Homo sapiens: one gene and its partner. The protein of the gene in region 2 purifies or fractionates together with the protein of the main gene of each other region. This does not show direct contact. Each region holds a gene or a part of one and is shown on either strand. Other genes may lie near its edges.

Region 1 (3,500 bases), on a different chromosome or scaffold from region 2:
CTGAGATCAGGAGTTCAAGACCAGCCTGGCCAACATGGCAAAACCCCGTCTCTACTAAAAATACAAAAATTAGCTGGGGTGGTGGTGGGCACCTGTAATCCTAGCCACTTGGGAGGCTGAGGCAGGAGAATTGCTTGAACCTGGGAAGCGGAGGTTGCAGTGAGCCAAGATCGGCCACTGCACTCCAGCCTGGGCGACAGAGTGAGACTCTGTCTCAAAAAATAAAATAAAATAAAAAAAAGATTCATTAGCAACTGTAGTTGTCAATAATAAATAAATTAACTGATTATACATTTACTCAAATAATACAACTGTTAAAATGCAGTAAATATGGAAAACATTTAAGATTTTCATTTACTAGGTGAAACTATATATGTACTATAGGTACAACTAGGTATTTATATATAGTAAAAATATGTACAAGATTTATACTTAGGATATAATGAATGAGTGATGATTACAGCTTTAGTACTTAAAAGTAAAGCACCTAGCATCTTTTTTTAACCTTTTATTGATGTGTATGTCAGTATGCACAGAAGAGTACCTGATCATAAAAGGACAGCTCAGTGCATTTTCACCAGAGAACACACCCATTTAACTACCACCCAGACCAAGAAGTAGAGCATTACCACTACCCCAGAAGCCCTCCAACCCCACCGCTGCTGACCCCCTCTCCCCCGACCTGACCACCTCCCTAGGGGCAGATTTTAAATGGCACTGAAATATACCAAAGTGTCAACCGAAGCCACGTTTGGCTGGTTAGGACTGCAAGTGATGTTTGCTTTCTATTTTTTTCAGTTTTTCAATCCCTCTTCTCCATGATAACGGATTACACTGTATTTTACTCTAACTTCCATTTATGACTTATAAATTAACTCCTGCATTTAGTCACATGAAATGCCTCTTTTTGAGCCAGGTGTGGTGGCTCACGCCTGTAATCCCAACACTTTGGGAGGCTGAGGCAGGTGGATCACCTGAGGTCAGGAGTTCGAGACCAGCCTGACCAACATGTTTGTGAAACCCCATCTCTACTAAAAATACAAAAATTAGCTGGACGTGGTGGCGGGCACCTGTAATCCCAGCTACTCGGGAGGCTGAGGCAGGAGAATTGCTAGAACCCGGGAGGCAGAGGTTGCAGTGAGCCTAGATCGCACCACTGCACTCCAGCCTGGGGGACAGAGCAAGACTCCATCTCAAAAAAAAAAAAAGAAAAGAAAAAGAAATTCTTCTTTTTGAAGTGGATCTTTGCTATTTGAATTTAGGAATAGGATCGGCTCCTTTGTTCCTTTGGTATTAAAATAGGAAACACACATTCTAGCTGGGAAGCTGTCCTCGTACCTGTTTCTTACAGATGCCTTCTGTTGCGAGGCAGCCCCCTTGGTTTCTGAGTGCACATGCTGTGTGTGATGGCTTTTCTTCCTTGGAAGCAAAGGTGGAAAGCAAACGCTGTGCTCTGCCTTCCTCTCCCTCTGGCACTAGCCCATGTGCTGCTGTCCCTCCTCTGCCTGGAGGGGCCTGGCCTGCGCCCGTCTCGAGTCAGCTGTGCTGCTGGCTCCGGCTCCCGCAGATTAGAGTGAGCTGTACAAGCGATAACTGATTGAGAAGCCCAGATACAGTCTCCCATTTCCACCACAGAGACTGGAAACACCCCCTGCACATAATGGGGATGTTAGACCTTGGTGACACCTGCTCCTAAAGGGGACTGTTCTTGGTGTCACCACTTTGAGAAACCAAAAGAAAGGTCAACTCCTAACCCAACGAGCGGGGCTCACAAAACCTTCCCCCAGTCCATATTCTCTTCCTGCTCTATTTACAATCAACCAGAGGGCTCATGGAGCTGGACAGAAATATGTTTGAGTCATCATCGTAACAAATGGTTATTTTGCTTAGTACTTGAGATGTAGGATATGTAATGTCATCTGTTTCAATAGCAGTTCACGAAATGAGTCAGTGAAGCACAGGGTGTCTTCCCACTGAGGACTCTTGGTTCCTGGTCATAGGCGTTGAGTCACAAAGCCCGTATCAGGGCTCCCAAGACCAGCCCCAGGTGGACTCAGGACTCCGCAATCTGCTCTCTCACCGCTGTGATTACAGCGAAAAGACATAAGGCAGAATCAGCAAAGGGAAGGGTGTGTGAGTTGACGTTTGGAGGAAGCCGGCACCAGCTTCCAAGAGTCCTCTCCCGGTAGAGTCACACGGGATGGGCTTAATTCCTCCAGCAGTGAGTGGTGACAACACTTGTAACATGCTGCCTACCAGGGAAGCTCATTAAAGTCTCGGTGTCCAGGCTTGTATTAGGGGCTGTTCAGGTCTCCCGCCTCTGCCCAGCACGTGCCTAAATTCCAGACTTCCAGCAGGAAAGCGGGTATTCAGCGTAAACCTCCTTATTTAGACAGTGTAGGCAGTGTGAGCCGCTCTTATCAAGGAATGGCAGGAACCCTCCCCAAATCCCAGCTCCCTGGTGCCAGCCACCACCTTTGCAGGCAGGTCTTTCCAAGGATGGCAGCCTCAGGCCTTTCCTGCACGGAACCTTAGGCTGGAAGGGACGTAGCCATGCTCCAGTCCATCTTCACAGCTTACAAGCGAGGAAACTGAGACCCAGAAAGATGGCATGGCTTACCCAAGATTCTGAAACTCCCCCGCGGTCCAGCCAGGATGGGGCCCAGGGGTTCTGTTCCACCCACGGCCAGGGCTTTTGGCGGTTGTGCTTCGCAGAGGGCCGTGATGGCCACACAGGTCAAGCTCATTGTTTTTTAATATCCCAAGAACAGTTAGTGAAACTTATTAGACACTTTGATTAAAGGACTGAGCTTTTGGCCGGGCATGGTGGCTCGTGCCTGTAATCCCAGCACTTTGGGAGGCCAAGGCGGGTGGATCACCTGAGGTCAGGAGTTCCAGACCAACCTGGTCAACATGGTGAAACCCTGTCTCTACTAAAAAATACAAAAATTAGCCAAGTATGGTGGCGCACACCTGTAGTCCCAGCTACTCGGGAGGCTGAGGCAAGAGAATCACTTGAACCTGGAAGCGGAGGTTGCAGTGAGCCAAGGTCGCGCCATTGCACTCCAGCCAGGGCAACAGAGCAAGAAAGAAAAAAGAAGAATTGAGTTTTGGCCAGGCGTGGTGGCTCATCCCTGTAATCCCAGCACTTGGGGAGGCTAAGGCAGGCAGATTGGTTGAGCTCAGGAGTTCAAGACCAGCCTGGGCAAGATGGCGAGACCCTGTCTCTAAAAGAAAAAGAATTGAGCTTTCCAGTGTGATGGAGCTGTCTAAACTGTGGATCCGCCAGTCGCATATATAAGTATATAGTGACCAAGCCCATTATTGCATCAAATCAACTGGCCTACTCTGTGCGCGGGAGGAATGCATCAGGGTACAGCATTTACATGAACAGAACAGTCACGGTGTTGTAAAAAAGAAAAAGACTAGAATGCAGTTCAACAAATGTTAATAGTGATTGCCTCTGGATGGCAGGACGATGGACAAATCTTTTTTGTCTA
Region 2 (2,262 bases):
CCACGCTCTCTCCCTTCTTGCAGGCCTGCGCTGCTGCTGTCCCACCTCCTCCCTCTCTGGCCACTGCTGTTGCTGCCCCTCCCACCGCCTGCTCAGGGCTCTTCATCCTCCCCTCGAACCCCACCAGCCCCAGCCCGCCCCCCGTGTGCCAGGGGAGGCCCCTCGGCCCCACGTCATGTGTGCGTGTGGGAGCGAGCACCTCCACCAAGCCGATCTCCTCGGGTCCCAAGATCACGTCGGCAAGTCCTGCCTGGCACTGCACCCCCAGCCACCCCATCAGGCTTTGAGGAGGGGCCGCCCTCATCCCAATACCCCTGGGCTATCGTGTGGGGTCCCACCGTGTCTCGAGAGGATGGAGGGGACCCCAACTCTGCCAATCCCGGATTTCTGGACTATGGTTTTGCAGCCCCTCATGGGCTCGCAACCCCACACCCCAACTCAGACTCCATGCGAGGTGATGGAGATGGGCTTATCCTTGGAGAGGCACCTGCCACCCTGCGGCCATTCCTGTTCGGGGGCCGTGGGGAAGGTGAGTGGGAAAGGCTGGGAGGGATATGACGGATGGGGAGGCTGGGTGAAGACACCAAGGGGCAGAAATAGAGGCCTTGTCTGTTAGCTCCTTCAACAAATGTGTCAGGCACTATACTGGCACAGGATGCAGAGATAAAGACACCCTCTCGGAGTTCAGGTCCACTGGAGCAGACAGACATGAAAGGACTTGGAGAGGAGTCATCGTAATAAATGCTTTAATAGAGGCATGTGCAGCATGATTTACAAAAAAAGAGAAGTGAGAGTCTCCTCCTGCTTGGGGATCAGGACACCTTCAGAGAACTGACATTTGAGCTGGCCCTTGAAAAGAGAGTGGGAGTATTCTGGGCAGAGAATGCCATGAATGAAGGGCACTACCCGGGAGATGTCTTGGCTCAGGGAGTGCTGATGGAGGAACAGGGCCTGTGGTTTGGGAGTTGGGCCATGGCAGAGACTAGGACATCTCCACCCCTTAGTTTCCAGGCATAGTGATAGGTTCTCGCTGATCATGGGGCCTCATCCTCATCACATATACACATAAGATTTGGTGAAATACATTTGGGAAAGTGGAGGAAAAGAGCTGAAAACTCAGGGGAATGCTGGTGATAATAAAGAGTGAGGCTCCAGAGGGGCAGACAGAGCCGGCAGTGTGGATCCACACAGCAATGCCACTCCAGCCGACAGAGCCCACAGCCCAGCCCCCAGCCCCTCTTGGCTCCTACCACCTCGGGGCTCCCTAAAACTTTCTTCCCACCCCAATCAGGTGTGGACCCCCAGCTCTATGTCACAATTACCATCTCCATCATCATTGTTCTCGTGGCCACTGGCATCATCTTCAAGTTCTGGTAAGCTGGGAGGAGGAAGGTGCTGGTGGATGGGGACGGAATGTTTGGCAGTCGAGGCTCTAACCACGAGGGGCAGTGGCAGCAATTTTGCTGGGGGGTGGGTGGGAAATGCTGGATGAAGGCAAGACCTTGGGAAAAGATAATTAAGGATTTGGCTGGGGGAAGACGGTGAGAAATCAGGGCAGATTCTGTCTCCCAGGGAAATACAAGGATAAGGGAGGGCAGGGGAATTATTCCTGTGCATTCCTGGTGAGCCTCCCCTGCCCCTACTTCCTCCAAGACAGAGAAAGCTGACCCAGTCTGCAGAGCCCTTCTTAGGGTTGCCTGGGGGGAGCAAGAAAACCTGGAGCTTTCTTTGCACACATTTAATAATGGATCACTCAGTCCTTCACACTTTACTGAGAGAATCATTAGACTCAGGTGTCCAAGTCATCAGCTTGCTTTGAACTAGAACTAAACCTGCCAGTTGTCTGCTGAAGACAGAAATGACTCTTCTGGGCATGTAGGGGAGAGGACATTGTGGTGGTGGGGAGGGGATATTAATTTTGTCGATCTGGATCAGGTTTGGAGGGTAAGGAGGTTTAGATTACCAAGCTCCCCTAGAGGGCAGGGGAAGTGGCTTTATGGGCACAGAGTCCCAGGGGATTTAGTAGAGAGAACTGTTAAAGGCCAGTTTCTCTGCTATAAGATGTTGGGAGTGACTGGGCGAGGCTGGGGGTGACCACTGGTGCAGGCCCAGGATGGGGGCTACTTGAGTGTGCAAGAGAACCTCTTTTCCTCTGGTACCCCAGCTGGGACCGCAGCCAGAAGCGACGCAGACCCTCAGGGCAGCAAGGTGCCCTGAGGCAGGAGGAGAGCCAGCAGCCACTGACAGACCTGTCCCCGGCTG

The links.
Region 1: the proteins of PIANP (region 2) and ADCY9 purify together in Homo sapiens (affinity purification with mass spectrometry; 2 studies listed by BioGRID and IntAct, with this or other methods). This does not show direct contact.

The regions. Positions count from the first base shown.
Region 1 is NC_000016.10:3,969,943-3,973,442, reverse strand, and holds part of ADCY9 (adenylate cyclase type 9), read left to right. Parts: intron 1-3,500. UniProt on the Homo sapiens protein: Adenylyl cyclase that catalyzes the formation of the signaling molecule cAMP in response to activation of G protein-coupled receptors.
Region 2 is NC_000012.12:6,695,554-6,697,815, reverse strand, and holds part of PIANP (PILR alpha-associated neural protein isoform b precursor), read left to right. Parts: intron 1-23; coding exon 24-529; intron 530-1,291; coding exon 1,292-1,373; intron 1,374-2,164; coding exon 2,165-2,262. UniProt on the Homo sapiens protein: Acts as a ligand for PILRA in neural tissues, where it may be involved in immune regulation.